Regions from separate parts of the Homo sapiens genome. Here region 2 is linked to region 1. A link means that fine-mapping ties the variant in region 1 to the expression of a gene that starts in the linked region. Tissue or cell type: whole blood. Region 1 holds a variant in brackets; the other region holds the start of a gene. All regions are shown on one strand. Distances are from middle to middle. Region 1 overlaps CD28 (CD28 molecule). Region 2 holds the start of CD28 (CD28 molecule).

Evidence for each region. PIP is the estimated chance that this variant, and not a neighbour inherited with it, causes the effect.
Region 2: CD28 starts here. The variant in region 1 is fine-mapped to the expression of CD28 in whole blood (INTERVAL, PIP above 0.99).

Annotation. Positions count from the first base shown.
Region 1 is chr2:203,734,869-203,751,553 of GRCh38, forward strand. It overlaps CD28 (CD28 molecule), which reads left to right. Exons shown (of 4, transcript NM_006139.4): 4 at 1-4,044. The coding sequence ends at 44. Among named protein-coding and RNA genes, the nearest start is that of CD28, 37 kb to the left of the region's middle. The variant G/C (reference allele first, on the strand shown) is at 3,338.
Region 2 is chr2:203,694,148-203,710,832 of GRCh38, forward strand. It overlaps CD28 (CD28 molecule), which reads left to right and starts at 12,492. Exons shown (of 4, transcript NM_006139.4): 1 at 12,492-12,601. The coding sequence starts at 12,550. RefSeq lists an enhancer at 12,372-12,521.

The DNA of each region.
Region 1 (16,685 bases):
AGCCCTATGCCCCACCACGCGACTTCGCAGCCTATCGCTCCTGACACGGACGCCTATCCAGAAGCCAGCCGGCTGGCAGCCCCCATCTGCTCAATATCACTGCTCTGGATAGGAAATGACCGCCATCTCCAGCCGGCCACCTCAGGCCCCTGTTGGGCCACCAATGCCAATTTTTCTCGAGTGACTAGACCAAATATCAAGATCATTTTGAGACTCTGAAATGAAGTAAAAGAGATTTCCTGTGACAGGCCAAGTCTTACAGTGCCATGGCCCACATTCCAACTTACCATGTACTTAGTGACTTGACTGAGAAGTTAGGGTAGAAAACAAAAAGGGAGTGGATTCTGGGAGCCTCTTCCCTTTCTCACTCACCTGCACATCTCAGTCAAGCAAAGTGTGGTATCCACAGACATTTTAGTTGCAGAAGAAAGGCTAGGAAATCATTCCTTTTGGTTAAATGGGTGTTTAATCTTTTGGTTAGTGGGTTAAACGGGGTAAGTTAGAGTAGGGGGAGGGATAGGAAGACATATTTAAAAACCATTAAAACACTGTCTCCCACTCATGAAATGAGCCACGTAGTTCCTATTTAATGCTGTTTTCCTTTAGTTTAGAAATACATAGACATTGTCTTTTATGAATTCTGATCATATTTAGTCATTTTGACCAAATGAGGGATTTGGTCAAATGAGGGATTCCCTCAAAGCAATATCAGGTAAACCAAGTTGCTTTCCTCACTCCCTGTCATGAGACTTCAGTGTTAATGTTCACAATATACTTTCGAAAGAATAAAATAGTTCTCCTACATGAAGAAAGAATATGTCAGGAAATAAGGTCACTTTATGTCAAAATTATTTGAGTACTATGGGACCTGGCGCAGTGGCTCATGCTTGTAATCCCAGCACTTTGGGAGGCCGAGGTGGGCAGATCACTTGAGATCAGGACCAGCCTGGTCAAGATGGTGAAACTCCGTCTGTACTAAAAATACAAAATTTAGCTTGGCCTGGTGGCAGGCACCTGTAATCCCAGCTGCCCAAGAGGCTGAGGCATGAGAATCGCTTGAACCTGGCAGGCGGAGGTTGCAGTGAGCCGAGATAGTGCCACAGCTCTCCAGCCTGGGCGACAGAGTGAGACTCCATCTCAAACAACAACAACAACAACAACAACAACAACAAACCACAAAATTATTTGAGTACTGTGAAGGATTATTTGTCTAACAGTTCATTCCAATCAGACCAGGTAGGAGCTTTCCTGTTTCATATGTTTCAGGGTTGCACAGTTGGTCTCTTTAATGTCGGTGTGGAGATCCAAAGTGGGTTGTGGAAAGAGCGTCCATAGGAGAAGTGAGAATACTGTGAAAAAGGGATGTTAGCATTCATTAGAGTATGAGGATGAGTCCCAAGAAGGTTCTTTGGAAGGAGGACGAATAGAATGGAGTAATGAAATTCTTGCCATGTGCTGAGGAGATAGCCAGCATTAGGTGACAATCTTCCAGAAGTGGTCAGGCAGAAGGTGCCCTGGTGAGAGCTCCTTTACAGGGACTTTATGTGGTTTAGGGCTCAGAGCTCCAAAACTCTGGGCTCAGCTGCTCCTGTACCTTGGAGGTCCATTCACATGGGAAAGTATTTTGGAATGTGTCTTTTGAAGAGAGCATCAGAGTTCTTAAGGGACTGGGTAAGGCCTGACCCTGAAATGACCATGGATATTTTTCTACCTACAGTTTGAGTCAACTAGAATATGCCTGGGGACCTTGAAGAATGGCCCTTCAGTGGCCCTCACCATTTGTTCATGCTTCAGTTAATTCAGGTGTTGAAGGAGCTTAGGTTTTAGAGGCACGTAGACTTGGTTCAAGTCTCGTTAGTAGTTGAATAGCCTCAGGCAAGTCACTGCCCACCTAAGATGATGGTTCTTCAACTATAAAATGGAGATAATGGTTACAAATGTCTCTTCCTATAGTATAATCTCCATAAGGGCATGGCCCAAGTCTGTCTTTGACTCTGCCTATCCCTGACATTTAGTAGCATGCCCGACATACAATGTTAGCTATTGGTATTATTGCCATATAGATAAATTATGTATAAAAATTAAACTGGGCAATAGCCTAAGAAGGGGGGAATATTGTAACACAAATTTAAACCCACTACGCAGGGATGAGGTGCTATAATATGAGGACCTTTTAACTTCCATCATTTTCCTGTTTCTTGAAATAGTTTATCTTGTAATGAAATATAAGGCACCTCCCACTTTTATGTATAGAAAGAGGTCTTTTAATTTTTTTTTAATGTGAGAAGGAAGGGAGGAGTAGGAATCTTGAGATTCCAGATCGAAAATACTGTACTTTGGTTGATTTTTAAGTGGGCTTCCATTCCATGGATTTAATCAGTCCCAAGAAGATCAAACTCAGCAGTACTTGGGTGCTGAAGAACTGTTGGATTTACCCTGGCACGTGTGCCACTTGCCAGCTTCTTGGGCACACAGAGTTCTTCAATCCAAGTTATCAGATTGTATTTGAAAATGACAGAGCTGGAGAGTTTTTTGAAATGGCAGTGGCAAATAAATAAATACTTTTTTTTAAATGGAAAGACTTGATCTATGGTAATAAATGATTTTGTTTTCTGACTGGAAAAATAGGCCTACTAAAGATGAATCACACTTGAGATGTTTCTTACTCACTCTGCACAGAAACAAAGAAGAAATGTTATACAGGGAAGTCCGTTTTCACTATTAGTATGAACCAAGAAATGGTTCAAAAACAGTGGTAGGAGCAATGCTTTCATAGTTTCAGATATGGTAGTTATGAAGAAAACAATGTCATTTGCTGCTATTATTGTAAGAGTCTTATAATTAATGGTACTCCTATAATTTTTGATTGTGAGCTCACCTATTTGGGTTAAGCATGCCAATTTAAAGAGACCAAGTGTATGTACATTATGTTCTACATATTCAGTGATAAAATTACTAAACTACTATATGTCTGCTTTAAATTTGTACTTTAATATTGTCTTTTGGTATTAAGAAAGATATGCTTTCAGAATAGATATGCTTCGCTTTGGCAAGGAATTTGGATAGAACTTGCTATTTAAAAGAGGTGTGGGGTAAATCCTTGTATAAATCTCCAGTTTAGCCTTTTTTGAAAAAGCTAGACTTTCAAATACTAATTTCACTTCAAGCAGGGTACGTTTCTGGTTTGTTTGCTTGACTTCAGTCACAATTTCTTATCAGACCAATGGCTGACCTCTTTGAGATGTCAGGCTAGGCTTACCTATGTGTTCTGTGTCATGTGAATGCTGAGAAGTTTGACAGAGATCCAACTTCAGCCTTGACCCCATCAGTCCCTCGG[G/C]TTAACTAACTGAGCCACCGGTCCTCATGGCTATTTTAATGAGGGTATTGATGGTTAAATGCATGTCTGATCCCTTATCCCAGCCATTTGCACTGCCAGCTGGGAACTATACCAGACCTGGATACTGATCCCAAAGTGTTAAATTCAACTACATGCTGGAGATTAGAGATGGTGCCAATAAAGGACCCAGAACCAGGATCTTGATTGCTATAGACTTATTAATAATCCAGGTCAAAGAGAGTGACACACACTCTCTCAAGACCTGGGGTGAGGGAGTCTGTGTTATCTGCAAGGCCATTTGAGGCTCAGAAAGTCTCTCTTTCCTATAGATATATGCATACTTTCTGACATATAGGAATGTATCAGGAATACTCAACCATCACAGGCATGTTCCTACCTCAGGGCCTTTACATGTCCTGTTTACTCTGTCTAGAATGTCCTTCTGTAGATGACCTGGCTTGCCTCGTCACCCTTCAGGTCCTTGCTCAAGTGTCATCTTCTCCCCTAGTTAAACTACCCCACACCCTGTCTGCTTTCCTTGCTTATTTTTCTCCATAGCATTTTACCATCTCTTACATTAGACATTTTTCTTATTTATTTGTAGTTTATAAGCTTCATGAGGCAAGTAACTTTGCTTTGTTTCTTGCTGTATCTCCAGTGCCCAGAGCAGTGCCTGGTATATAATAAATATTTATTGACTGAGTGAATGAGTTTTACATGGCCTTATGAATTAACGGTGAGTCTAAATGTTATAATCATACTTTGAGAGGGAGAAAGCCAGTTCTATTTTCTACTTTCCTCTTAAGAAGTTCAAAAATTCATTTTATTAAAAAAACAGGAGGTAAAATATATACACAGCCAAATCTAGTGAAAGAAAATCTGATGAATATAAGTTCATTTACGTTTTAGAAATTTTTGTGCAGTGAGGAAAACCAGTACTGTTAGAAAAGTCATGCCAACTCAGCCACTGTCAGGAGTAAGTTGATTTTCCATTGAAGTCCCCAAATTCCCTCTTAATGGAGTATTGGCTATATCTTAAACATATCTTTAGTTTAAGACTTCTGAAAATGTTGTCTTTGTCTAAAATGTTAAAATCCCATCCTACTACTGACCTGCTACTCTTTTTTCTGGGGTGATTTTACCCCCAACAAATTCTATAAATGCCTTCTCTGGCTCTGATTCAAAAAGTGCTCACAAATGGAAATGCTGGGGACAGAAAATTTCAACTTCTTCACCTGTCATACTCATATCATAGCTGAACACTCTAATAGCACACACACACACACACACACACACACACACAGACCCACACACACACACACACACCCCTATCATCTTCTGGGTAGGGGAAGGGAAAGGCGCTTGAACAACAGACACAAGAGCTGGTCTAATAATTCATGTAGCACCTTCTGTTTCCTTCGTTGAAATTTTACTCTGAAGGTGACTCAGAGTCAATTAAATTGGTGTGCAATGAGTTCATCTCTAAACTGATTCTTTTCTTTGGTGAAATGAAGCTTATTAAACTTAATAAAGGTAATTAAACTTGAAAAAGATGAGCTTATATGTCTCTTACTACTCCAAGAAAGACTGAACTCAGCTGGTTACTCATGGATAGTTCAATAAGACAAATCAAATCAATTGGAAAGGAACGAGATGGGTAAAAAAAAAAAAGCCATTAAATGAATCTGCTCAATAAGCACTCCTTTACCATGCTAATAAAAATAATGTAACCCAGTTCTGTAAAAAGGTTCTAGTACTTTGAAACTCAAGTTCAAAACAAAATAAAATGCAAACTTCGCTTCACCTAACACCTCCCACAACATTCTAGCTACCCAACTGGGTGAATATTGTAATTGCCCACAACCCCGAATTCACTTTTTCCCTCCAGTATGATAAAACAGATTGATTCCCTTTTAAAGCAATACCCTTTCTTCTCTCCCATCTTGTCGGTATCAGAGATAATGGATAGGTGAGAAAAAATTAAAGAAGCTTCTGGATTCATTGTAATGGGGACCTAACCATCACACTATGCAGCAGCAAATGGGATGGTCTGGAAAGCAGACCAGAACCTTGTCTGGTAACTTTGCTTCTAATGTCTGTCTGTGTTTCCTAAACTGAGGCCTAACTCTTGACTTTTTGACAGTGGTGCTCATAAGAAAGTTTGGGGCTGGGCACGGTCACTCATGCCTGTAATGTCAGCACTTTGGGAGGCTAATGCAGGAGGATCACTTGAGTCTAGGAGTTCAAGACCAGCTTGAACAACATAGGGAGACCCTGTCTGTATTAAAAAAAAAAATTAGCCAGACGTGATGGTGCAGGCCTGTAGTCCCAGCTACTTAGGAGGCTGAGGCTGCAGTGAACTGGGATCATACCCCTTCAAGAACACATGTGAATGGTGGGGCCTCTCAGCTTTCTCTGATTTGGCAACCCAGAAGAAATATGTGCTTTCTCTTTGAAGATTCACAGGATCCTAGCACTTGGAAACCTAGGCCACTGTCCAGAGCAGAAGGTCACACAATTTCTCAGAGTGACTTTTGTTCATTTCAGGGTGTTGACACCGGGCCCAACACTTGAAAATTGCTTGAGATGATAAATTGCTTGAGGTGATCAAAGAATATATCAGCTCTTCAAAGCTGACCTCATTCTTGGTGCAACTCTCAGGGCCAGAATGTGTGCTTCCCGAAGCTCATTTTCCTATCTGATTTGCCTGTTGAAACTCTGTGAAAGACCCTTGAATGCTAGGAATTTGAAGGGACAAAAAGTTGAAGAAAGGTGAATGGATTTCAGGGTGGAAGTGGACTGGATTTTACTCTCACTTCATCAGGCAGAGCTATCTCAGTGATAAATTGAAACTCTCCTCTGGCTCCAAAGAACAAATCATGAGCTGGGTGGAAATGTCAGTTGAGAAGAAGAGCAGCAAACAGCTTTGTTTTCCTATAGTTGTGGTTTTACATGGTGATGATGACACACGAAGATGAAAATGTGCAGCATGAACTCCAGTTGTTATCTGAGTGAGCATCTCTGCCAACACTGAAGGATATGTGTGGGTGTCACCTGAAAACAAAGAGAAAGACAGAGAGAGAAAAAGAAGAAAAGGAGGCCCTGTTTCGGAAAGAAGAGCCAGTTAATCAAAGATCAGCAGTGACAAGTGGCGCTGTTTATTTCATGAGCTTTATATGTGATTTCCTTCCCCTTGCTAATCTCGTCTGAATTTATTCTCTGGACTAAATATATTTGCATCTGGTGACTGAGGAAGGGGTGGAAAAGGTGACCTTGAATGGGCATCGGGGTAGTTACCATAGTTATTTAGTCATTTCTTCAGTCTCTTGGGCACACACTTAGCTTCCCAAATGGAGGTTTCTGCTAACTTTTGAGAACCTGTGACATATTACACAGGGAAGACAAACTTCAGGTGGTTGTTGGGGACCCTCTTTTATCCCCAACCCTATGCAATGCTTGTTTCATTTGCTTTATGTTTCTCCTTCCTCTCTTCTACTTCATTCATTCTAGAACTAGTTAATGGGCACCTGCCCAGCACTAAGATGTGGGCTAGGTACAGGGATGTGGCAGTGTGCAGCACAGATATTACCTCCACACTTCCGAAGTGTAGAGTGTCTGCTTTGTATATTACTTCAGTTTTTTTTTTCTTTTCCTGCCCCCTATATCCTGCTTCTAGGGGTAACCACTTAGTCTTGATTTTGGGACTTAGATCTTAATGTGGCTACTTGATAGCCTTTGTTGGTTTGCCTGAAATTCATTTCTTTGACATGTTCCTATTTAACATCTCTAACTCTTTCAATGTCATAGATCAGGAATCAGCAAATTTTTTTCTGTTAAGGGCCAGATAGTAAATATTTTAGGCTTTGTGACTATACTGTCTCTTATAGATAATAAGTTTTGCCACTGTAGTGTGAAAGCAGCCATAAACAATATATAAACAAATAAGCATGGCTGCATTCCAATAAACCTTTATTTATGGATATTGATATGTGAAGTTCGTGTGATTTTCATGTCATGCAATATTACTTTTCCTTTGTTTTTTTCCCCCAACCATTTATAGATGGAAAATCCATTTTTAGTTCATGGGCTGTACAAAGGCAGGTAGTGGGCTGGACATGGCTTATGGGCTACGGTTTGCTGATCCTTGACTTAGATCTAAGCTGCAACCTTAGCTATAGGCTTATTTTTGAGTTCCAGCCACCTTCTACATTTTTAGGGCCAGAAGGAATTGGTTTGAATGTGTGTAAAGGCTTCTTGGGAGTGCTGAGAGTCAAGCATCTCTTTTGAAAGAAGGACATGGATCAATAAAGAAGAAGGAAGAGCTTTCATCTAAGGAAAGCCATTTGAGGTAGAAGAAATGGGAAGTTATAAGCAAAGGGAATGAGAAGCTGTTTCAGGAAGACAGAGTCTTCTGTATATTATTATTATTAATTTTGACAGAGTCTTGCTCTGTCACCCAGGCTGGAGTACAGTAGCATGATCTCAGCTCACTACATCCTCTGCCTCTCGGGGTCAAGCGATTCTCATGCCTCAGTCTCCTCAGTAGCTGGGATGATAGGCACACGCCACCACTCCCGGCTAATTTTTTTATTTTTTATTTTTATTTTTAGTAGAGATGGGGTTTCACCATGTTGGCGAGGCTGGTCTCGAACGCCTGGCCTCAAGTGATCCACCCACCACGGCCTCCCAAAGTGTTGGGATTACAGGCATGAGCCACTGTGCCTGGCCTATATTATTGATGAAAGCCTAAACATCTTGGGAGCTCTTGTTACTCTTTTCTCAAGTCCTTTCTACTCTTTTCCCTCTTTTCTAGGCATCACATCCTTGTAATCTCCAAGGAAACAAATTTCTTTCTTTCTTTTTTTTTTTTTTGAGATGGAGTCTCGATCTATCGCCCAGGCTGGAGTGCAGTGGCACTATCTCCGCTCACTGCAAGCTCTGCCTCCTGGTTCATGCCATTCTCCTGCCTCAGCCTCCCGAGTAGATGGGACTACAGGCATCCGCCACCCACCACCACGCCTGGCTAATTTTTTGTATTTTTAGTAGAGACAGGGTTTCACCATGTTAGCCAGGATGGTCTCGATCTCCTGACCTCGTGATCCGCCCACCTTGGCCTCCCAAAGTGCTGGGATTATAGGCATGAGCCACCGCGCCCGGCCAGGAAACAAATGCACAGAAGGAAGGGGGCAGAAAATGGTCTGTGTCCAATGTGATGAACAGGCTTGACTTCCCTGCTAATTCTTCCCTATGTAGTACATCCAAATCCAACTCTGGGTGGGTAGAGATCAGAAGCAGCTGTCTCAGAATTGGCCTCCTACTTTCTACCTATCTCATGTTTCCAGTCTGCATTTGGCTGCCATTTATGAGTGGCCAAGAGTAACCCCTCATGAATCTACATTAAGGCTCAGCATTTCACAAGTAGCTGATGAAATCAGTATTACTCAGATCAGAAAGGCACCGACCTAACCCTTACCATCCCTTGCCCCCATTCCTCACTCCAGTCTTGTTATACCCAAGGTACAAATCGTTCCTGGAAGCAGCCCAGCATATGGGGGCACCCTAAGCCACACACCCAGTCACACCATCTGGGCAATTTAAAAATAGGGCCAAATGGAGCATTTAGACTGGTCTGTCCAGCCAAGATCAGGAAATTGCCTCTAAAAGGTCAGATGATTAAGATTATTGTACCAACAGTCTAGGATGTCAGTAATGAAAAAAAGCTTCTGGCAGAATGAATTTTCCTGACTTTACACATGGTGTTCCAGTTCTGAGTTGGGGTGAACAGCTTTGGGAAATCCCAAGATTTTTCTACTCCAGAAAATAGTGCTACTATGTACATTTATGCACTGTGTGCCTTGCACAAAGGCCCCTAGTGAAGGGAATGAAGAGGGCTGAAATCTAGTCAAGCTCCCCTTATCAAGCTCTGCACCTGCTTAATGAAGGAGAGGGCGCCTTCTCTAATGCCCGCATGTATGGGCTATTGAGGCCCTGATAGAATGCTAGCCTTTCTGCCATTTGGTTACTGAGCTTTATAGAAATTATATCCCCATTCTCAAAGCAGGAATTTTCTAGGATGAGTAATAGTTAAAACAAAATAAAACTACCCCTCCCCCACAAAATGGAATGGTTCTAAATATCACAAAAATTTATCTCCTCGGTCCCTTCTTTAGTCTTCCCTTCACCTTAGCTCTGCATGTTTTAATTTAGTTGGTTGGTTTTTCTTGACTTACACTGGGTGGGTATGTCTTTGGAGAGTAATGAGAGAAGAAACTTCCTAGTTCGTGTCCTAGTTTGGCTCTTAGAAGAAAAACAAAAAATGTTTTTGTGACCTGAGGAATACTAGGTAATATAGCTTGGATATTTGTCCTCTCCAAATCTCATTTTGAAATTTGATCCCCAGTGTTGGAGATGGGGTCTAGTGGGAGGTGTTTGGGTCTTAGGGGCGGATCCCTCATGAATGGCTTGGTGCCATTCGTATGGGATTGAGTTCTTGCTCTTAGTTTTGGGGAGATCTGGTTGTCAAAAAGAGTCTGGCATCCTATTCAGTGCCTCCCTTCTCCCCTGCCTATTTCTCTCTCTTTCTCACTCTTTCTCTCTCTCTATCTCTCACTTCCTGCCATGTGATCTTTACATACCAGCTCCCCTTCCCCCTTCTGCCATGACTGGAAGCTTCCTGAAGTCCCTGCTAGAAGCAGAATAGAGTGCTATACTTCTTGTACAGCCTGCAGAACTATGTTCCAAATAAACCTCTTTTTGTTATAAATTACCCAGCCTCAGGTATTCCTTTATAGCAATGCAAATGGACTAAGACACTGGGTTTGGGGTTAGTTTTGGGGATGTACCTAGAACTCTTCAGTTAATGTAGTCTACTCTTATTTCTTAGTTATCAGTACATGAGGGGACCAGACTAAATAACCTCAGAGCTCATTCCTATAATTGTTTTCATACTCCATATTATAACTCTCCTAGAATTATCTTCCCATCATGAATACCATTGTTTTGGGTTTCTCCACTATCACATTTCTAAGTCTTACAGATATAAATATTTTATGTTTGAGATTTGTCAACCAGGATTATTTGAATAAATGTATAATTCTCTACAACAGTTAAGTTTACTAATTTATCAAAATTGTTTCCATCACTTTTTCTGGAGAAAATAATGAATTCTAAAGTTTAGTTTAAAGTTAAAATAATGAATTTTAAAGTTTAATGAAGTTTAAGGTTTAAAAAATGATGTAATAGTTTACTATGTAAATACTATGTAAACTATTACATCATTTTTTAAAGCTTGTCATTTTCCAAATAAACTTCTTATACATTATTGAAGTCTTCATAGTGAACTACATCTTGCATGTGATGGGTGCTCAGAATATCTTAATGAGTGAATCAATGGATGGATGGATAAATGAATGACTATCTTTCATTTGATAAATATCCGCAAGCTATTTTGGTTTTTGACAAATTAGACGAAACAGGTATTATGAAAAGACTTGGGAAAATTGAGGACAAATTAGTTAACTAGATACTATGAAAAGACTTGGGAAATTCATATTTTTAAAATTATTGAAATGTATTAATTAATATGCATTTTAAGACATTGTTTAGGCATTCAGAAGCAAAAACTGTTTATCCTTCCTTGGCAACAAACAGAACTCTAATTGTGTTCAGTTATCTACTCTCCATGTGCTCTGGGGAGTTCCAGGGAGTGGATAAGGATTAGTTTAAGCCAGAATGGTAGTCCTAACCTTCTCATCAGTGATTGGTTTAGGCATGGACACATGATAAAATTCTGACCAATAGCCTGACGGGTCTCTGATAAAGTTTCTTTTTGCTCTTTTTTTTATTTTGAGACAGTCTCACTCTGTTGCCCAGGCTGGAGTGCAGTGGTGCCATCTTGGCTAACTGCAACCTCACTGCAACCTCCAGCTTCCTGGGTTCAAGCAATTCTTGTGCCTCAGTCTCCTGAGTAGCTGGGACTACAGGCATGTACCACCATGCCTGGCTAATTTTTGTATTTTTAGTAGAGACAGGATTTCACCATGTTCGCCAGGCTGGTCCCGAACTCCTGACCTCAAGTGATCTACTTGCCTCGGCCTCCAAAGTGCTGGGATTACAGGTGTGAGCCACCGTGCTCAGCCTCTCCTTGCTCTTTAAAAAGAGATGTTTGGAAACAAAGTTTCCTTTCTGCTATAGAATGTTATGTCTGCAAGCAGCATCTGATATAGCCTCTTTGCGACCAGGGGAGGAATTGGCCTGAGAACATGCTGAGGCAGGAAGAGCAGAAAGAGGGGAGGAACCTGGATCTTGGTGACATTATTGAGCTGCAGATTGAGCCGACTTGAATTCTCCTTGCTTCCTTCCTTCCTTCCTTCCTTCCTTCCTCCCTTCCTTCCTTCCAGTTCTTGTCATGTGAGACAGTAAATAACTTTATTGTTTAAGCCCTTTTGGGTTAGATTTTCTATTACATGAAGTTTAAAGCATTCTGATAACTTCATGTTTATTGATGTGTATAAATACTAATATATTCTATTATTTGGGGGATACAAAGAATTTGACTCAATAGTATCTTGTTCTATTGACATGTTCAATTATTAATCACTGATAACCCTGAATAACTAAATGTTATTACCACATTTAGGACAATATCCACGTCCACTGACATATGAAATTTGGGCAATTTGCTTCTTTGGGAAGCATTATAAATCACAGAACAGCAGAGGATACAAAGACCCCCACAAGAGATCATCAAGATTTTCTTCTTCCCTTCTTTTTGTCATACACATTGCTGAGAAGGAGCACCTCCAGGAAGGAACCAAATTATTTGTATTTTTCTGTTATTTTTAGTTTTGAGACCCGGTCTCACTCTGTCACCCAGGCCGGAGTGCAGTGGTACAGTGGCTCACTGCAACCTCTGCCTCCCAGGTTCAAGCAATTCTCCTGCATCAGCCTCCCAAGTAGCTGGGATTACAGGTGCCCACCAGCACGCCCAGCTAATTTTTGTATGTTTTCAGTAGAGATGGGGTTTCATCATGTGGCCGGGCTGGTCTCGAACTCCTGACCTCAAGTGATCTGCCCGCCTCAGCCTTCCAAAGTGCTGAGTTTACAGGCATGAGCCACCAAGTCCAGCCAATATTTGTATTTTGAATTAAAGTATGTATGTGAAAAATGAGAACACTGGCTCACTTCCTGGTAATATAAAATACAACATATCAGTAAAATCTTCCATGATTCTCCTAGTTCAGTGATCTCTTTCTACCCCTGTGTTACCTAATGCTGGCCTAAACTCCAGCGGCCTGTAGAGGAGATTGGTTTTTGTAGTTGTAAAATAATATTTTAGGCTGGGTGTGGTGCCTCATGCCTGTAATCCCAGTACTTTGGGAGGCTGAGGCGGGCAGATCACGAGGTCAGGAGATGGAGGCCAACATGGTGAAACCCTGTCTCTACTAAAAATACAAAAATTAGCTGGGCGTGATGGTGCGTGCCTGTAATCCCAGCTACTTGGGAGGCTGAGGCAGGAGAATCGCTTGAACCTGGGAGGCGGAGGTTGCAGTGAGCCGAGATGGCGCCACTGCACTCCAGCCTGGGCAACAGAGCGAGACTCTGTCTCAAAAAAAAAAAAAGTCACGTTTAAAAATTCAAAGTATACTTATATTTAAAATTTTCTAATAATGAAATGTTATCATAAGACCAAAGTAGATGTACTGGGCCTGGATCTTCATCCTTTCAGTCTGTCTTTGATTCTGACAGTGGCACCTCCAGCAACATTGATCTTCTCTGGGGGCCCTGGGATAACACATTAGCTTCTAGAATGGCTTGGGGATTTCCTGCTTGTGTCCTATGAAAAGGACACAAACTGGCCACACATGTGTTCAGTCTAGTGATGGGGACTGAGAAGGACAGAAAGAGATTTGACAGAGTTTTGACCTTAGCAATTTACTACTTGGTTGGGGAAATAACTCGTCATAAAGGTAGTATATACTAAGCTCTAATTAAATGATATACAATTCAAGTTCAGAGGTGAAAGACTATTGTGGACTGGAATTCCAATCTGGCCCTGAAAAGCAATACACAGCTTTTCAAACTTGTGGGAAATAGAATAGCTTTGAGAAGGAGTACTTGCATTTTTAATTTTTAGAAATATTGCCAATTTGCTTTGCACAGAGGTTATATTGATATACAGTCCCATCAGTCACGTATGAGAGAGCCTTTTACCCTATTTATTCTCATTAGCACAGTGTTAACATGTTTGATCTTTGCCAGTTTGATAGTTTGAAATGATATTTTATCATTGAGTTGATTTGTGTTTCATTTTTATGAATCAGATTCATCATCTTTTCATTTCTCATAAGAGTCTTTTTTTTTTCTGTGAACTGTCTACTCATATCCTCTGCCCATTTTTTTTTCAGTTGTATTGTCAGCTTTTTAATGTAGAATCACTTCAAAGAAACTATTCCTTTGCTTGTAACTCCTTCATTTTAGAGATGAATAGATGTAAGAGGTAAGCTTATTGTTTCTTTGTTTATTCATCAGCTTTTATTAAGTATCCATTCCATGCCAGGCACTGCACTTGTCACAGGAATTAGATATAGATCCTGTCCTCAAGAAGCTCCCAGGCTATGGGAGACACAAAGCTTTTCACATGGTTTTCAGGTCTATAATAGAGCTATACATAGGGAGTTATTGTGGCTCAAAGGTGGGGCATCACCTAACCATGCAAGGAGTTGGGGAGGCTCAGGAAAGTATTTGTAGATGACAGCAGCTGAATCTTAAAGAACAAGGGAGGCTTAGGCAAGTGACGAAGCGGGGAATTACATTTCAGGTAGAGAGACTAACTTGTGCAAAAACACAAGCACGGTGCCTTTGAGGAGTTCAATGTGTGAATTCAGGGTGGCTGGAGAATAGGTTAAGTCCAAGAGAGTATAAGAGATGAGACCACCTCTATTAAGACAAACTCTTTATTCCTAGGAATTTGGGGCTTATCCCAAGGGCAAGGGAAAGCTAATAAAATATATAATTTTAAAAATTTGCTTAAAATTATTATTTATAATATATAACCTATAATCTTACATTGCAGAAAGCTATAAAATGAAAACTAAATGTCTTCCTCCTCCTTGTCCCCTGTCCCACAGTTCTATTTTTCAGAGGTTACCATTTTTTTTTTAACAGTTTCCATTTACCTCCATAACTCTCAATATGTTTATCTCCCTGTTTCTTGATTTGTCAAACCGAACAGTATTTACAGACTCTCCACTATGAAGATGAAGAATTCAGCTCACTTCTACTAACTCCCACCCTTCCAATTTTTTGGAAGGTTTTAAGCACAAGAGGGACCTGATTAAATTTGCATTTTGGAAAGATTATTTTGCTAGCAATGTGAGGAGTGGTTCAACAGCTGTTGCAGTAAATCAAAGAACATAAGTTGGAGGGATGCATTAGTGGAAGGTACCTAGAGGACAGAAAGGTGAGGACTATTGGAAGACTAGAAGATAGAGGGAAGGAGAAGGTCACTCCTTGGTTTTATTTATTTATTTATTTTTGGAGATGGAGTCTTGCTCTGTCGCCCAGGCTGGAGTGCAGTGGCACGATCTCAGCTCACTGCAACCTCCGCCTCCTGGGTTAAAGCAATTCTCCTGCCTCAGCCTCCCAAGTAGCTGGGACTACAGGTGCCCGCCACCAGATCTGGCTAATTTTTTTTGTATTTTTAGTAGAGACGGGGTTTCACCATGTTAGCCAGGATGGTCTTGATCTCCTGACCTCATGATCCACCTGCCTCAGCCTTCCAAAGTGGTGGGATAACAGGCGTGAGCCACCGTACCCGGCCACTCCCTGGTTTTAGACTGGTGCAGGTGGTACTTACACTCTGTGAGCTAGAGATGCAGGAGGAGGAATTAATTTTAGTAGGGGGCATGATGTTGAATTTCACTTTGGACATGTTGAATTTGGCGTGTTTGTGAGAATCCAGGTGGAGATGCCTTATGATGCAGCTGGACAACTAATAGAGTTGCGGCGGTCAGGAGTGAGCAGAGGCTAGGGAGATAGATCTATGAGCCAGCCCTCAATGTATAGTTTATTCATTTTCTCATTCATTTAATAAATATTTATTGAATACCATCTAAGAGCTAAATGCTGGGTATAAAATGATGAGAGAAGAGACAAATTTCCTCACCTCATGGAGCTTTTAAGCTGGCAGAGGAGACAAACATTAACACAGAAACTCACAAATACATATGCAATTATGGACTGTGGTAGGTGCTACAAAAAAGAATACAGGCTTATGTGATAGAATAACAGCATGCACCAAATTTAGACTGGGGCCTGGGAGGGAAACAGATGGGCAGGCAAAGCTTCTTTATACCTAGATCTGCCAGGTGCAGAAGAGTTAAAGAAGCCATGTGCAGAGGACATTTTGAAGTGGAAGTCATGGTCAGGACCAGCCATAATCTTTGTGGAGCTTAGGATAAAGTCCAATCAACGGAGACCCACTAAATATCTAGACATCATCAATCAAGAGAGCTAAGTGATATTACATATGTTCTATCCCCCTCTCTTGACAAATATATCTTTATGATGACAAATAGAAAAATACACGTAAAGTAAAACTGAAAGTTGGCAAAATATCAATGACAACCAAATTTAGTTATTATCGCACACGTCCGGGTCTTCTGTTATGGGTTGAGATGATTGTATGAGCAATAAAATTAAGACAGATACAATATTCAGTTTCTTGAACTGGGTGCTAATTACTATTCACTCTGCAAATTTTCTGAGCTATATATGTATGACTTGTGTACTTTTCTGTATTTACTATTCCATAGCAGAAAATTTAAAGGATTTATCAAATACTTACGTCATAACATTATTTATTTATTTATTTATTTATTTATTTAATTAATTTATTTTTTTTGAGACAGCGTCTCGCTCTGTTGCCCAGACTGGAGTGCAGTGGCACAATCCCAGCTCACTGCAAGCTCTGCCTCCCAGGTTCACGCCATTCTCCTACCTCAGCCTCCCGAGTAGCTGGGACTACAGGCGCACGCCACCGCACCCAGCTAATTTTTTGTATTTTTAGTAGAGACGGGTTTTCACCATATTAGCCAGGATGATCTCGATCTCCTGACCTCGTGATCTGCCCACTTCGGCCTCCCAAAGTGCTGGGATTACAGGCATGAGCCACCACGCCTGGCCTATTTTTCAGTTTTTTTGAGACAGAGTTTCATTCTTGTTGACCATGCTGGAGTGCAGTGGCATGATCTCGGGTCACTGCAACCTCTGCCTCTCAGGTTCTAGCAATTATCCTGCCTCAGCCTCCCAAGTAGCTAGGATTATAGGCACCTGCCACCATGCCCGT
Region 2 (16,685 bases), 41 kb before region 1:
TTCAGTGGGATTAGTCAATCAATATGGCCATTATTTCTGATTTTTCTTTCTCTGAGGCTTAGCATAGTGTTTTTTTTTTTTTTTCAGGCTTCGGTCCTGCTGATTTGTGATAATATGCATGACTTTCTTAACTTCATCTTTGTCTATTTTTTTTTGACAAAGTTTTTCGTAGCAACAGCTGGAATAATACCACACAGCTCAAACAGAAAGTCTCAGGCTTCATTATTTCCCCACAATCACCATGTGACAATTCGAATCTCTGTAAGGCAGAGCTTTGGGGGAAGATTAGAAACTGAAATGAAAGGCAAATTTCTAGCTGGAATTTAGATCAAAGAAGATATTATCCTGGTAGGCTTGCTGTGTACAAGAGAGAGCCATGGGGCTTCTCACTGACCAGCTTGACCACAATAATTCTTAAAGACTCTTCAATGATACTTTGCAGTTTATACTGGTATATGTTATTAAAGGATTGTACATCAAGGAGGAATACTATGCTAATGTAAAAATCGGGTTCTGGTGGCATTCATGCTGTAGAGTAAAATCAATCCACATAAATATATTGAACCTATATTCAAGGATCCATTCTGGCTGTTCCAACAAAGATTTATTGAGCCCCTACAGTAAGTGTGAAATGGAGATTCATCAAACTTTCTTTGTGTCTTAAAAGCAAGGGGAGATTTACACTTTGTGTGAGATATGGACAATATATTGAGTGAGGTATTGTCATCCCTATTTTACACATGAGGAATTGAGGCTGTGACTTTATGAGATTATTATATAACTAGAAAGTGGTCCAACTACATTTGATCCCTAAATCTGTGGGACTTCAAATCTGTGTGTTAGCTACTGGAATTCCCAAGTCAGTTACCTTTCCTGTTCTGCATTCTAGATGGTAAACTGAGTATGGGTATGCATTCTGTGCAGGGAGCTCCTCATCTCTCAAGGTCTAGATGGGAACCACAGAGGCCCCAGGGGAAAGAGGAGGGAGATGCTGAGTGGCTAGGCATGACTCTGGCCTTGGCTGTAGGAGAAATGAGTTGTGAAGGTGTTAGGTCTTTGAGTCTTCTGTATCATTGAGCACAGCTCAGACAGAAATATAGGGTAGAGAACAGACAGGAATATATATGTCCTAGCTAGTGGCAAAATGCTATTTTCAGCAACACTATATCTAGTATTATATCCTTGGGAAACCAGGGATGAGAAGATTACCATGGCCAGAGTACCAGAGAGAAAAAGGTTCACAATTGCAGGCATATTGATTGGAGGTCAGAGAGCAATGGTGGAGTGTTTCATTCCTTCAGTAAATGCCTTATTGAGCCCTTACTATGAGCTAGACACAGGGGATACAGCTGGAAATGAGAGAGACATGGATTCACCCTCATCATGTTTATAGTCTACTGGAGGACATAGACATTAAACACTTAATGGCACGAACACATCTGTAGTTACTTTTTCTTCTTGGCATTCCCAGTGCGCTGTATAAAGAGTGCAATGGAGATTATAGCAGGGAGACCTGGTTTAGATGGGTCAGAAGTGGGGAGTGTGTGTGTGTGTGTGTGTAGCCAATGGTGGCTGGAGACAGTATCTTTGAAGAGGTTCTGTTTACTTTGATCCTGGAAGAATGAGGGCAATTTACTCGGATTGGAGATAAAAATCCTGACCAGAGAGCAATAAGTGGTGAAGGCCCTGAGATTCATTCCTCACTCAACTCCCTCACAGGATCTTATTTTCAGCCTTAGTTCCTGTTACGTTTCAAACAGCCTATAGAATTTGGTCACCTGTATTATATTTTTCTCTAACAAGCAATGTGGTCGGGACTTCAATCTGCTCATTGATTGATTAAAGTTGTTTGTTTCATCGTGATGCATATGTCCTTGAATATCAAGGGCTTATGTGGATTTAACAAATCTGGAATTTCTCCAGAAAAATACAGGTGCACTTCTATGAAGCACAGTTAATTATGACTTCCCAGAGCCGTTTGGGCCACTCCACGGTTTCCTAAGTGACTCCATTTAAGCTCTAAAGAGATACACCATGTTAGATGTCTTGCAACTGAAAGGTAATGAATACCCTTATGTTTTTGTCCTCATAACTCTTAAAATTAAAAAAAATATATACTTAGGAGAAACAAATACAGGTTTCTTTTTTTTTTTTGAGATGGAGTTTCACTCTTGTTGCCCAGGCTGGAATGCAATGGCGCAATCTCGGCTCACCACAACCTCCGCCTCCCAGGTTCAAGTGATTCTCCTGCCTCAGCCTCCCTAGTAGCTGGGATTACAGGCATGTGCCACCACGCTTGGCTAATTTTGTATTTTTAGTAGAGATGGTGTTTCTCCATGTTGGTCAGGCTGGTCTAGAACTCCCGACCTCAGGTGATCTGCCTGCCTCAGCCTCCCAAAGTGCTGGGATTACAGGCATGAGCCACTGTGCCCGGCCACATACAGGTTTCTTACATGCATATATTGCATGGTGGTGAAGTCTGGGCTTTTAGTGTACCCACCACCCAAATAGTGAGCATTGTACCCCATAGGTAACTTTTCAACCCTCACCTGCCTCCCACCTCCCACCTTTTGGTGTCTCTAATGTCTATTATTTCACTCTGTATGTCCACGTGTACATTGTTTAGCTTCCTCTTTTAAGTGAGAACATGTGTGTTTGACTTTCTGTTTATGAGTTATTTCACTAAGGATAATGACCTCCAGTTCCATCCATGTTGCTGCAAATGATTTCATTATTTTTTTGGCTCTGTATTATTCCATGGTATGTGTGTATGCATTGCTGCAAATGATTTCATTATTTTTTTGGCTCTGTATTATTCCATGGTATGTGTGTATGCGTATGTGTATGTGTGTGTGTGTATACATTATACACCTTTTGTACGTGTGTGTGTGTGTGTGTGTGTGTGTATATATATATATATACCTCCAATGTATAGCTATAGCCCATATTCTTTATTCAATCCTCTGTTGATGGACTCTTGTGTTGATTCCATATCTTTGCCACTGTGAATAGTGCTGTGCTAAACATACGAGGGCAGGTATCTTTTTGACGTAATGATTTCTTTCCCTTTGGGTATATACCCAGTTGTGGGAGTGCTGGATTGAATGCTAGTTCTATTTTTAGTTCTTTGAGAAATCTCCATACTATTTTCCATAAAGGCTGTACTAATTTACATTCCCACCAGTGGTATACAGGCATTCTCTTTTCTCCTCATGATTATTGGCTGTTTTTAGACTGTTTATTAATAGCCATTCTGACTAGTGTAAGATGGTATCTCACTGTGGTTTTAATTTGCATTTCTCTGATGATCAGCAATATTGAGCATTTTTTCATATGTTTGTTAGCCACTTGTATGTCTTGTTTTGAAAAATGTCTGTTTAACAAGCAAATGCTGAGGGATTTTGTCACTACCAGGCCTGCCTTACAAGAGCTCCTGAAAGAAGCACTAAATATGGAAAGGAAAAACTGGTACCAGCCACTGCAAAAACACACCAAAATATAAAGTCACCATGAAGAAACTGCATTAACTAATATGCAGAATAACCAGCTAGCATCATGATGACAGGATCAAATTCACACATAACAGTATTAACCTTAAACGTAAATGGGCTAATGCCCCACTTAAAAGACACAGACTGGAAAACTGGATAAAGAGTCAAGATCCATCGGTGTGCTGTATTCAGGAGACCCATCTCACATGCAAAGACACATAGGCTCAAAATAAAGGGATGGAGGAGTATTTACCAAGCAAATGGAAAGCAAAAAAAAGCAGGAATTGCAATCCTAGTCTGTGATAAAACAGACTTTAAACCAACAAAGATCAAAAAAGACAAATAAGGGCATTACATAATGGTAAAGTGATCGATGCAACAAGAAGAGCTAACTATCCTAAATATATGTGCCCTGAAAACAGGAGCACCCAGATTCATAAAACAAGCTCTTAGAGACCTACAAAGAGACTTATATTCCCACACAGTAATAGTGGGAGACTTTAACACCCCACTGTCAATATTAGACAGATCAACAAGACAGAAAATTAACAAGGATATTCAGGAGTTGAACTCAGCTCTGAACCAAGTGGACCTAATAGACATCTACAGAACTCTCCATCCCAAATCGATAGAATATACATTCTTTTTAGCACTGCATAGCACTTATTCTAAAATCGACCACATAATTGGAAGTAAAACACTCCTTGGCAAATGAAAAAGGACGGAAATCATAACAAACAGTCTCTCAGACCACAGTGCAATCAAATTAGAACTCAGGATTAAGAAACGCTCAAAACTGTGCAACTGCACGGAAACTGAACAACCTGCTCCTGAATGACTACTGGGTGATAACGAAATTAAGGCAGAAATAAAGAAGTTCTTTGAAATCAATGAGAACAAAGACACAACGTACCAGAATCTCCGGGACACAGTTAAGCAGAGTTAAGAGGGAAGTTTATAGCACTAAATACCCATATCAGAAAGCAGGAAAGATCTGAAATTGACACCCTAACATCAAAAGTAAAGTAAATAGAGAAGCAAGAGCAAACAAATTCAAAAGCTAGCAGAAGACAATAAATAACTAAGATCAGAGCAGAACTGAAGGAGATAGAGACATGAAAAGCCCTTCAGAAATTCAGTGAATCCAGGAGCTGGTGTTTTGAAAAGATTAACAAAATAGATAGACCACTAGCCAGACTAATAAAGAAGAAAAGAGAGAAGAATCAAATAGACACAATAAAAAATGATGAAGGGGATATCACCACTGATCCCACAGAAATACAAACTACCATCAGAAAATACTATAAACACCTCTATGCGGCCGGGTGCAGTGGCTCACGCCTGTAATCTCAGCACTTTAGGAGGCCAAGGCGGGCGGATCATGAGGTCAGGAGGTTGAGACCATCCTGGCTAACATGGTGAAACTCCATCTCTATTAAAAACACAAAAAATTAGCCGGGCATGGTGGCAGGCGCCTGTAGTCCCAGCTGCTCGGGAGGCTGAGGCAGGAGAATGGTGTGAACCTGGGAGGCGGAGTTTGCAGTGAGCCGAGATTGCGCCACTGCACTCCAGCCTGGGCGACAGAGCGAGACTCCGTCTAAAAAAGAAAAAAAAAACCAAAACACCTCTATGCAAATAAACTAGAAAATCTAGAAGAAATGGATAAATTCCTGGACACATACACCCTCCCAAGACTAAACCATGGAGAAGTCAAATCTCTGAATAGACCAATAACAAGTTCTGAAATGGAGGCAGTAATTAATACCCTATCAACCAGAAAAAGCCCAGGACCAGACAGAGTCACAGCTGAATTCTACCAGAGGTACAAAGAGGAGCTGGTACCATTTCTTCTGAAACTATTCCAAAAATTAGAAAAAGAGGGATTCCTCCCTAACTCATTTTATGAGGCCAGCATCATCCTGATACCAAACTCTGGCAGAGACACAACAAAAAAAGAAAATTTCAGGCGAATATCCTTGATGAACATTGATGCCAAAATCCTCAATAAAATACTGGCAAACCGAATCCAGCAGCACATCAGAAAGCTTATCCACCATGATCAAGTCGACTTCATCCTTAGCATGCAAGGCTGGTTCAACATACACAAATCAATAAATGTAATCCATCACATAAACAGAACCAATGACAAAAACCACATGATTATCTCAAAAGATGTGGAAAAAGCTTTGATAAAATTCAACACCGCTTCATGCTAAAAACTCTCAGTAAACTAGGTGTTGATGAAACATATCTCAAAATAATAAGAGCTATTTATGACAAACCCATAGCCAATATCATACTGAATGGGCAAAAGCTGGAAGCATTCCCTTTAAAAACCAGCACAAGACAAGGATGCCCTCTTTCACACTCCTATTCAACATAGTACTGGAACTTCTGGCCAGGGCAATCAGGCAAGAGAAAGAAATAAAGCGTATTCAAATAGGAAGAGAGGAAGTCAAATTGTCTTTGTTTGCAGTTGACATGACTGTATATTTAGAAAACCTATCTGTATTTTTAGAATGCTGTATATTTAGACTGTATATTTAGAAAACCATCTCATGCCAGTTAGAATGGCGATTATTGAAAAGTCAGGAAACAACAGATGCTGGCGAGGCTGTGGAGAAATAGGAACTCTTTTACACCATTGGTGGGAATGTAAATTAGTTCAACCATTGTAGAAGACAGTGTGTCAATTCCTCAAGGATCTAGAACCAGAAATACCATTTGACCCAGCAATCCCATTACTGGGTATATACCCAAACGATTATAAATCATTCTACTATAAAGACATGCACACGTATGTTTATTGGAGCACTATTTACAACAGCAAAGACTTGGAACCAACCCAAATGCCCATCAATGATAGACTGGATAAACAAAATATGGCACATATATGGGCTGGGTGTAGTGGCTTACGCCTGTAATCCCAGCACTTTGGGAGGCCAAGGCAGGTGGATCACCTGATGTTGGGAGTTCGAGACCAGCCAGACCAACATGGAGAAACCCCATCTCTACTAAAAATACAAAAATTAGCTGGGCCTGGTGGTGCATGCCTGTAATCCCAGCTACCTGGGAGGCTGAGGCAGGAGAATTGCTTGAACCTGGGAGGCAGAAGTTGCAGTGAGCCAAGATCGTGCCATTGTACTCTAGCCTGGGCAACAAGAGCGAAACTCTGTCTCAAAAAATAAAAAAATAAAATTAAATTAAATTAAAAAAAAGAAAATATGGCACATATATACTATGGAATACTATGCAGCCATAAAAAGAATGAGTTCATATCCATCGTCTCAGCCCAAAAACTCCTTCTGATAAGCAACTTCAGCAAAGTCTCAGGATACAAAATCAATAGGCAAAAATCACAAGCATTCCTATACACCAATAATAGACAAGTAGAGAGCCAAATCATGAGTGAACTCCCATTCACAATTGCTACAAAGAAAATAAGATACTTAGGAATACAGCTTACAAGGGATGTGAAGGACCTCTTCAAGGAGAACTACAAACCACTGCTCAAGGAAATAAGAGAGGACACAAACAAATGGAAAAACATTCCATGCTCATGAATAGGAAGAATCAGTACCATGAGATTGGCCATATGGCCCAAAGTAACTTATAGATTCAATACTATTACCATCAAGCTACCATTGACTTTCTTTGCAGAATTAGAAAAAACTACTTTAAATTTCATATGGAACCAAAAAAGAGCCTATATAGCCAAGAGAATCCTAAGCAAAAACAACAAAGCTGGAGGCATCCTGCTACCTGACTTCAAACTGTACTATAAGGCTACAGTAACCAAAACAGCATGGTACTGGTACCAAAACAGATATATAGACCAATGGAACGAAACAGAGACCTCAGAAATAACACCACACGTCTACAACCATCTGATCTTTGACAAACCTGACAAAAACAAGCAATGGGGAAAGGATTCCCTATTTAATAAATGGTGCTGGGAAAACTGGCTAGCCATATGCAGAAAACTTAAACTGGTCCCCTTCCTTATAGCTTATACAAAAATTAACTTAAGATGGATTAAAGATTTAAATGTAAAACCTAAAACCATAAAAACCCTAGAAGCAAACCAAGGCAATACCATTCAGGACATAGGCATGGGCAAAGACTTCATGACTAAAACACCAAAAGCAATCACAACAAAAGCCAAAATTGACAAATGAGATCTAATTAAAACTAAAGAGCTTCTGCACAGCAAAAGAAACTACCATGAGTGAATAAGCAAACTACAGAATGGGAGAAATTTTTGCAATCTATCCATCTGACAAACGTCTAATATCCAGAATCTGTAAGGAACTTAAACAAATTTACAAGAAAAAAACAACCCCATAAAAAGTGGGCAAAGGATACGAACAGACACTTCTCAAAAGAAGACATTTCTGCAGCCAACAAACATGAAAAAAAGCTCATCATCACTGATCATTAGAGAAATGCAAATCAAAACCACAATGAGATACCGTCTCACGCTGGTTAGAATGGCAATTATTAAAAAGTCAGGAAACAACGGATGCTGGCGAGGCTGTGGAGAAATAGGAACTCTTTTACGCTGTTGGTGGGAGTGTAAATTAGTTCAACCATTGTGGAAGACAGTGTGTCGATTCCTCAAGGATCTAGAACCAGAAATACCATTTGACCCAGCAATCCCATTACTGGGTATATACCCAAAGGATTATAAATCATTCTACTGTAAAGACATGCACACGTATGCTTATTGCAGCACTATTTACAACAGCAAAAACTTAGAACCAACCCAAATGCCCATCAATGATAGACTAGATAAAGAAAATATGGCACGTATATACTATGGAACACTATGCAGCCATAAAAAAGTATGAGTTCATGTCCTTTGCAGGGACATGGATGAAGCTGGAAGCCATCATTCTCAGCAAACTAACACAGGAGCAGAAAACCAAACACCACATGTTCTCACTCATAAGTGGGAGTTGAACAATGAGAACACATGGACACAGGGAGGGTAACATCACACACTGTGACCTGTCAGGGGGTGGGGATCAAGGGGAGGGAGAGCATTAGGACAAATACCTAATACATATGGGGCTTAAAACCTAGATGATGGGTTAATAGGTGCAGCAAACCACCATGGCACACGTATACCTTTGTAACAAACCTGCACGTTCTGCACATGTATCCCAGAACTTGAAGTAAATTTAAAAAAACAAAAAGAAAGAAAAATGTCTGTTCATGTCCTCTGCCTACTTTTTAATGGGATTGTTTTTTTCTTGTTGAGTTGTTTCAGTTCCATGTAGATTCTGGTTATTAGCCTTTTGTCAGATGTTTAGTTTGCAAATATTTTTCCCATTCTATAGTTATCTACTTACTCTGTTGATTGTTTCTTTTGCTGTGCAGAAGCTTTTTAGTTTATTTAAGTCCCATGTGTCTATTTTGTTGCCTTTGCTTCTGAGGACTTGTTCATAAATTCTTTGCCTCGGCAGATGTAAAAAAGAGTTTTTTCTTGGTTTTCTTCTGGGATTTTTATAGTTTCAGGTCTTACATTTAGGGCTTTAATGCATATTATGTTAATTTTTGTATATGGTGAGAGGTATGGGCCCCGTTTCATTCTTCTGCATATAGCTAGCCAATTTTCCCAGCACCATTTATTGAATAGGGAGTCCTCTCCCCAGCATATATTTTTGTTAACTTTGTTGAAGATCAGTTGGTTGTAGATATGTGGCTTTATCTCTGGGTTCTCTATTCTGTTCCATTGTTCTATGTATCTATTTTTATACTAGTACCATGCTGTTTTGGTTACTATAGTTTTACCATGTAATTTGAAGTTAGGTAATGTGATACTTCAAAGCTTTGTTCTTTTTGCTTAGGATTGCTTTGACTATTCAGCTCTTTTTGGATTCCACACGATTTTTAGGATTGCTTTTTCAAATTCTGTGAAAAATGACATTCTTTTGTTCTGACAATTCTTAACCCCACTTCAGACCAGTTTTCTCATCTGTAAAATGGAGATAATAATAATCTTCCTCACAGGTTGTGTATTAAATGAGATCTGGAATGTAAAGTTCTTAGTATGGAAATGCTATTATTTTTACTGAAAATGTTGTAGGGTCTCAGTATCCTGTGTATTGCCGGATTTAAGGTCCTTATTTTATTTCTGTCATTTCTACCTCTTGGTATATGTGAATGCTATTGGATTTCAAAAGCAAATGTGAAAGGATTCTAATGAAATGGTTTGCTTCTTTAGTGTCATACATGTTAAAACATAGGAAGGCAAATGTCAAAGTTTGTGTTTCTTTTTATTCTATGGAAAGAAAATTAAATATGGCTCATCAAATAATAAGGCCAATAATATTTAATTATTGTTTTGTGAATTCGTATAAATGAGCTGACCTCTCTGGGCTGCAGCTTCCTTCTCTGCAAGATAAGGGAATTAGGCCAGATGAGTGAACTGTTTCTTTTTCAGCTAAGTTTGACCCGATTACTACTATTTACATAGTATTAACTAGATGCTATGTAGTCATCTTTAATATGCTTGAAGACAGTTATTAACTCACTCCTTAGCCTTTTGTTGTTGATCATGGAAAACTACTGGGTATCTTTGTTTCTTCTGTGTATATTCTCAGTATGTATAATGAGTCTCAGAGCCTCTTGTTTTAAGATCTGGGTAGGCTGGTGGCTCTAGAATATGGATGACCTTTTAGGAAAGGTCACCTTGCCATCTGTAAATTTTCCCCCAGATAGACTTCAGGCCCTGGGGAAGGCATGGGTTCCCCTAACTGGATAGAGGATCAGAGCCAGGAAGACTGTGTCAAATTCTAGAAGTGAATCTTCTCCAGGACTCAGGGCATAGCTTTGTCACTTACCTATAGTTCAGAAGTGTGAGTGAATCATTTCCAAGGACAAATTTCTCCAAAGGACCAAAAGATGTGTTAGTAAGAGGGGTTCACAAAGACTGTGTTTGTGGGAAAATTGAAGTGTGAACAAAGAAGGTCTACCAGGACAGGAAATACTTTTGATCTGTCATTTATCAGATCAGGAGGGAGGGACATGAAGCCTGCCTCCTCTTACAGCTAGGTCATCAAAGAGTTTGACTGTAGCATTTTAAAATAGCGAAGAAAAAAAGGTAACAACACTAGGGGTTTGTTAAACAATTTATGATATAATTAGAGAATGGAATATTATGCATCAATTACAAATAATGTTTATAAAGATACTTAAATGACATGGGAAAATGTTCAAGATATAACAAATAATAGTACATATCTGATGAAAACTATAAGTAAAACATGATATTAAACATGTAAAAATCTTAACAGACCAACAGGTGGAAGGCAGTGGACCAGAATATTAGCAGTGTTTATATTAGGGTGGTAAGAATGTGGATGAATCTTGTTTTAATGCTTATAATTTTTCTAAACATTCTCAATGAAATATGCCTTACTTTTATAGTCAGAATAAAAAGCAATACAAGTTATCTTTTAAAACAACCCACATACACAAAACCCCCAACTAGAGTAATTGCACAAAGCTTAGATTATCAAAAAGAAGAAAAAAATTACTGGAAAAGTTTTGAAGAAGTCATTGAGTACAAGATACTGACGTAGGTGCCGGAAGAAGAGAGCAGTTGGCCGTGCTGGTGGAATAACCCTCTCTGCAAAGGGCCTGGGAGTTGAAGAAGGGTGCAGTCGGGTGGTGGTTATGAATCTCAGAAATCCTGCCACGGAGCCTCCTTTTGTGCCCTATTACTTAACCTTGAGGGACATAGAGAGCATGAGACACCAAGGGGCTTTTGGTTGCCTTACTGTCCCACTAAGAACATAGAATGTTGTTTTGACTTTCCCTTTGCTTAGGGAACCTCCCCCAGATACTCAGCTGGCTGGCTGCTTGCACGTAGAATGGGTTTTGCAAAGTTCCTAGAAGTGAGTTGGAGGAGGCTTGACATAAATCAAGCACTGTGTGCTAAATGCTCCAGAGGGCTACCTTATGTCCTACACAAATGTTACATTTCTAATATTTGTAACTCCTTTAAACGTTTATGCAGATGTTTCCCAATTCCTCAGTAGAATTCTTACCATTATCTTTTTGACACAACCTGTCCCCATCCTATGAAAATCTCTCCTCTGCTAGAGACTTTATTCTTTCTTTCTCTCTCTCCCCCTTCCTTCCTTCCCTCCCTCCCTCTTTCTTTCTTTCCATCTTTCTTTCTTTCTTTCTTTCTTTCTTTCTTTCTTTCTTTCTTTCTTTCTTTCTTTCTCTTTCTTTCTTTCTTTTCTTTCTTTCTTTCTTTCTCTTTCTCTCTCTTTCTTTCTTCCTTTCTTTTTTCTCTCTCCCCTTCCTTCCTTCTTTCCTTCTTTTCTTTTCTTTTCTTTTCTTTTCTTTCTCTCTTTCTTTCTGTCTTTCTTTTCTCATTCTGTTGCCCTGGCTGGAGTGCAGTGGCATGATCTCGGCTCATAGCAGCCTCCACCTCCTGGGTTCAAGCGATTCTCCTGCCTTAGCCTCCCTAGTAGCTGGGATTACAGGTACCCACCATGATGCCTGGCTAATTTTTTGTATTTTCAATGGAGACGGGGTTTCACCATGTTGGCCAGGCTCGTCTTGACCTCCTGGCCTCAAATGATCCACCCACTTTGGCCTCCCAAATTGCTGGCATTACAGGCGTGAGCCACTGCACCCGGCCTGTTCCTTCTTAAGAACACTTTGTCTCCCCTTTAATCTCTGCTGGATTTCAAGCACCCCTTTTACACAACTCTTGATATCCATCAATAAAGAATAATTCCCATAAGCCCATCATGTAGTGACCGACTATTTTTCAGTGACAAAAAAAAAGTCTTTAAAAATAGAAGTAAAAGTCTAAAGTCATCAAAACAACGTTATATCCTGTGTGAAATGCTGCAGTCAGGATGCCTTGTGGTTTGAGTGCCTTGATCATGTGCCCTAAGGGGATGGTGGCGGTGGTGGTGGCCGTGGATGACGGAGACTCTCAGGCCTTGGCAGGTGCGTCTTTCAGTTCCCCTCACACTTCGGGTTCCTCGGGGAGGAGGGGCTGGAACCCTAGCCCATCGTCAGGACAAAGATGCTCAGGCTGCTCTTGGCTCTCAACTTATTCCCTTCAATTCAAGTAACAGGTAAACAATGTTAATGTCTTTCTTTCTGTAAATATTTTTTGAGGTCTTCCAATTGGCTTAGTTTATTTTAAATTTCTAACAATGTGTGAAATTTGAACATTTGAAGTGTAGTTTTGCTGTAATAGGGCAATGTGTTATTTTGAAAATCATTGATTCTCAGACTACAATATAGTATCTTAACAAAAGTCCCTTGGAAATAAATTTTCTAAGCTATTAGTTTCTCTAGCTATTAGTTGATAGTGTCCCAAGAATTTATTATTATTATTATTATTTTAAATTGAGATGGGGTTTCACTATGTTGCCCAGGCTGGTCTCAAACTTCTGAGCTCAAGCAATCCACCTGCCTCTGCCTCCCAAAGTGCTAGGGTTACAGGCATGAGCTACCATGCCCGGCCAATAATTTTTAATTTATGTATCGTTTCTTTCTTTCTTTCTTTTTTTTTTTAATTTAAGAAAGCTGCTGTAAGTAGATTGGCTCTGGAAGCTCTGAATTTAGGTTGCCTATGTTCCTAACACAGGTCCAATTCTCACTAGGTAAGCTTAGGCTTAGCTATTATTTAAACTCTCCAAACCTCAGTTTCCTTAACTGTAAAGTGGGAATAATAATAAACCTCACCTCAAGGTCATTGTGAGGTAAAATGAAATAATCCATGCGAAGGGCTTAGCTCAGTCAGGCTTCAAGATAAATGTGAACTGTAATTACTCTATCTACCTGAATTGAATGAGTTCCAACATGAATTCTGGAGTCACCACAGAAGCTGCTACAACACCAATATTAATAAATTAGTTTTCTTTTACAATCGGCCAAAATGTATTTTCTTAGATTAAAATTCTTTAAGTTCCCAATGACGATGATGAGGAGGATAATACATCTAGCACTTTGAGCAGCACACAGTTCTCGTAACTAGAAGGTAGGTATTACAGTTAACTTCATTTCAGATGAAGAGACTGAGGGGTAGGCACATTAAGGGATTTGCCCAAGGATGTACAGGTGGCAGCTATAGGAGGCAGGGTCTGAACCACCTTAGTCTGACTCCAGTGCCGGTGTTGTTGATTATTATGCTATTCCATCTAACATGGTGTGATTTGTAATTTCATGGACTCAGGTAAATCCAGGGTTAAATTAACTTCGGAAAATCACAAGCACAATTCCTAACAGAAAGAATTTGTTACTTGGGTGGGCTGGAGTAAGATGCTCATTCAACGTGTTCTCAGAGTTAGAAAAAGGCCCCCGCTTGGTTCAAAAACTGGACTGATAGGGGTCAACAGTCATGCTTAAATAAGGACAGTTATTTTTCCCTGAAAGATACATTGAAAAGCCAGTATCCTCAATTTTCTTTCTTATTTTGGCAGTACAGAGACTGCATTATTTGTTGTTATTCTTAAACATTAAGTGTACATAGCCCAAAGAGTATAATTTCCCAATCTGCAGAGGTACAGTAGTTGCATATATACCCGTTTATTTTATGGTCTGACGTACCAGTGAGCACAAATTGTGTATATTTATAAAACGTGTTGATATAATGAAAGACATGAGTTGGCAATGAGATCTGGTACCAAGCGTTTACAGCTACCAAATATATTCTACAAGAATCTTTAACATTTATTTTAAAAAGGTCAAACCTTATTTTTAAGAGATCTCTCAAACTTAAAGAATATTTAAAATTACTTAATTTGTTAGACAGTCAAGGGAAGCCTACCCTGACTGAAAACTATTTAAAATTGGTAATTGTACACTAAATACTTTTCTGATGTGCTTTGTGGACACCTATCTGTCATCAACTTATTCACTCTCTTTTGAAGAGTTTTTGGTAAGACTCAAAACTTTGTATGTTTTCTTTAGAACATTTATTAAAAGGGGACTAGCTAGATAAGTGGTTGGAGAGTTCACACACATAGGGCCTTTGTTTTCTACTTTGACATATATTTACTTTTCAAATGCCAATTCACTTTTCTAGTAACTTTTAGCATTTGATACTGAGTGGCTATCTAATGAAGAAGGAAAGAGATGGGAGTGAAGGGGACACTTTTACAGTCTTTTCCAGTAAGAAAACTTACGAGCAAGAAAAGAATGACCACATAAAAAATGTATGATTTGGCCTGGTGTGGTGGCTCACGCCTGTAATCGTGGGACGCTGAGGCGGGTGGATCACTTGAGGTCAGGAGTTGGAGACCCGTCGGGCTAACATGGTGAAATCCCATCTCTACTAAAAATACAAAAAAATTAGCAGGGTGTGGTGGCATGCGCCTGTAATCCCAGCTACTTGTGAGGCTTAGGCAGGAGAATTGCTTAAACCCGGGACGCGGAGGTTGCTGTGAACTTAGATTGCACCCCTGCACTCCAGCCTGGGAAACAGTCTCAAAAAAAAAAAAAAATTATGCTGCATTCTAATCAAATAGTGCAAAGCTTCTTGTGTGCTTTGCCTTTCTCTGTACACACCTTCCATTAAGAAATTATAGATAGGGAAATTCTCTGGTCAAAGTGTAACTGTCCTTCCTAGGTCTGAGAAACCACTGTTATGCCTGTGTTGAGATGTGTATCTGTGTGCGTGCATGTGTGTGTATGTATGTATATGAAGAATAGTTCTTTTTTCCATTAATTTAATAATGTGTGTGTATGTATGTATATGAAGAATAGTTCTTTTTTCCATTAATTTAATAATGTAACTTATTTGTTTACAGCATAGCTTAAAATATTTATTCTATAAAGGTTAAGTCTAACCTGATTCCTTATGAGTTGGATGACAGTGTAGAGAGATATTTATGGCTAAGTTAAAGAAGTGTGATTTAGGAAGAGTGAGGAAACCTTAACTTAGATAAGCCCTTTGCATGTTTTCTACTAGACTCGGATAATTGTGCAACTGAGATCCACAGAGAGTATTTTGCTGGACTTTGGGATAGGAGTCCAGCCCAGAACTACAGAGCCTTAAGAGGGAAATGCTCTGGGATTGATGATAGAAGGATGGTATGCACAAAATACTTGACATTGGTCACATGTTTCAGGCCATATTTGCTATTTTTTAGCAAGCCTAATCATCCAGTGTGAAGAGAAAAATCAGCATATTACCACTTATTTTTCCATGAGATCATTCCTTTTCACTTCTCCAAAACTTGGGCAAAAAACTGTCAAAATGGCCAGTTTGGACAAAGCTAATTTCTCCAGCGCCTTCCCTTAGCGCTTATTTTTCTGAGAGAGGCATGGAAAGCAGGAAAATAACTGACATTTAATAAAAAGTCATCAGCAAAGCAATTAAAAATTTTATTTGTACTCTAGTCTTCAGCCAATGACTCCCCTGAGCTGGTTGTATACGGAAAGAAGTAATTTGTTTCTCACAGTTAAGTGTTGCTCTGAGACTGGGCTTGGGAAAGTAAGGTGAAAAGATGAATGTCAAAAAATCAACAGATTGCCGTATTTACATGACTTCCAATATGCTGTGGCCAGTTTTTCTGTTAAAAGAAATTGACTGGATGTTTTTGTCATTTCAAGTAAATTTGATGGATATTTCAAAAGTATAGGCATTGCTTAAGGATTTGTTTTACTCTACTACCGTGCCCTAGTTAACACATTGTGTTTTTTAAGGCAACCATCCAGCAAGGACGTTTACAGCAAGGACTGCAAAATTAATATCAATATATCAATACCAGGAAATGGAATGAGTCATTGCCACAGATAGATTAGAAATAGAAATGAATCTGTGATTGTAACTCCAAAGCTCTCACATTCAAACTTTTACTATGGGTGGGGAGAGGATCTCGCTGCCTCCCCTTCTTTAAGACATAGACCCTCCTCCTTTTTAACGTCTTATGCCTTTTTTCAAGGGTGGAGAAATGCCATATGATTACCATTTGGCTTTTATCTTGTGTGGATATCTTCCTCCAAGTATTTCCTGCAAGCAGTGTGCTGACATTTACAAAAGGAAAATTTTTATGCCACCAACATCCCAGAAGAAAATTTGTTGTGGTTTATCATCTCTAACACAAAAGCCCTTTATTAACTAGTGTAGGCATTGATGAGGATACGCAATTCATGTCAGACTTGGTTGTCTAAAAATCAGAGGACGGACACTCCTTCAAAGCACAATTG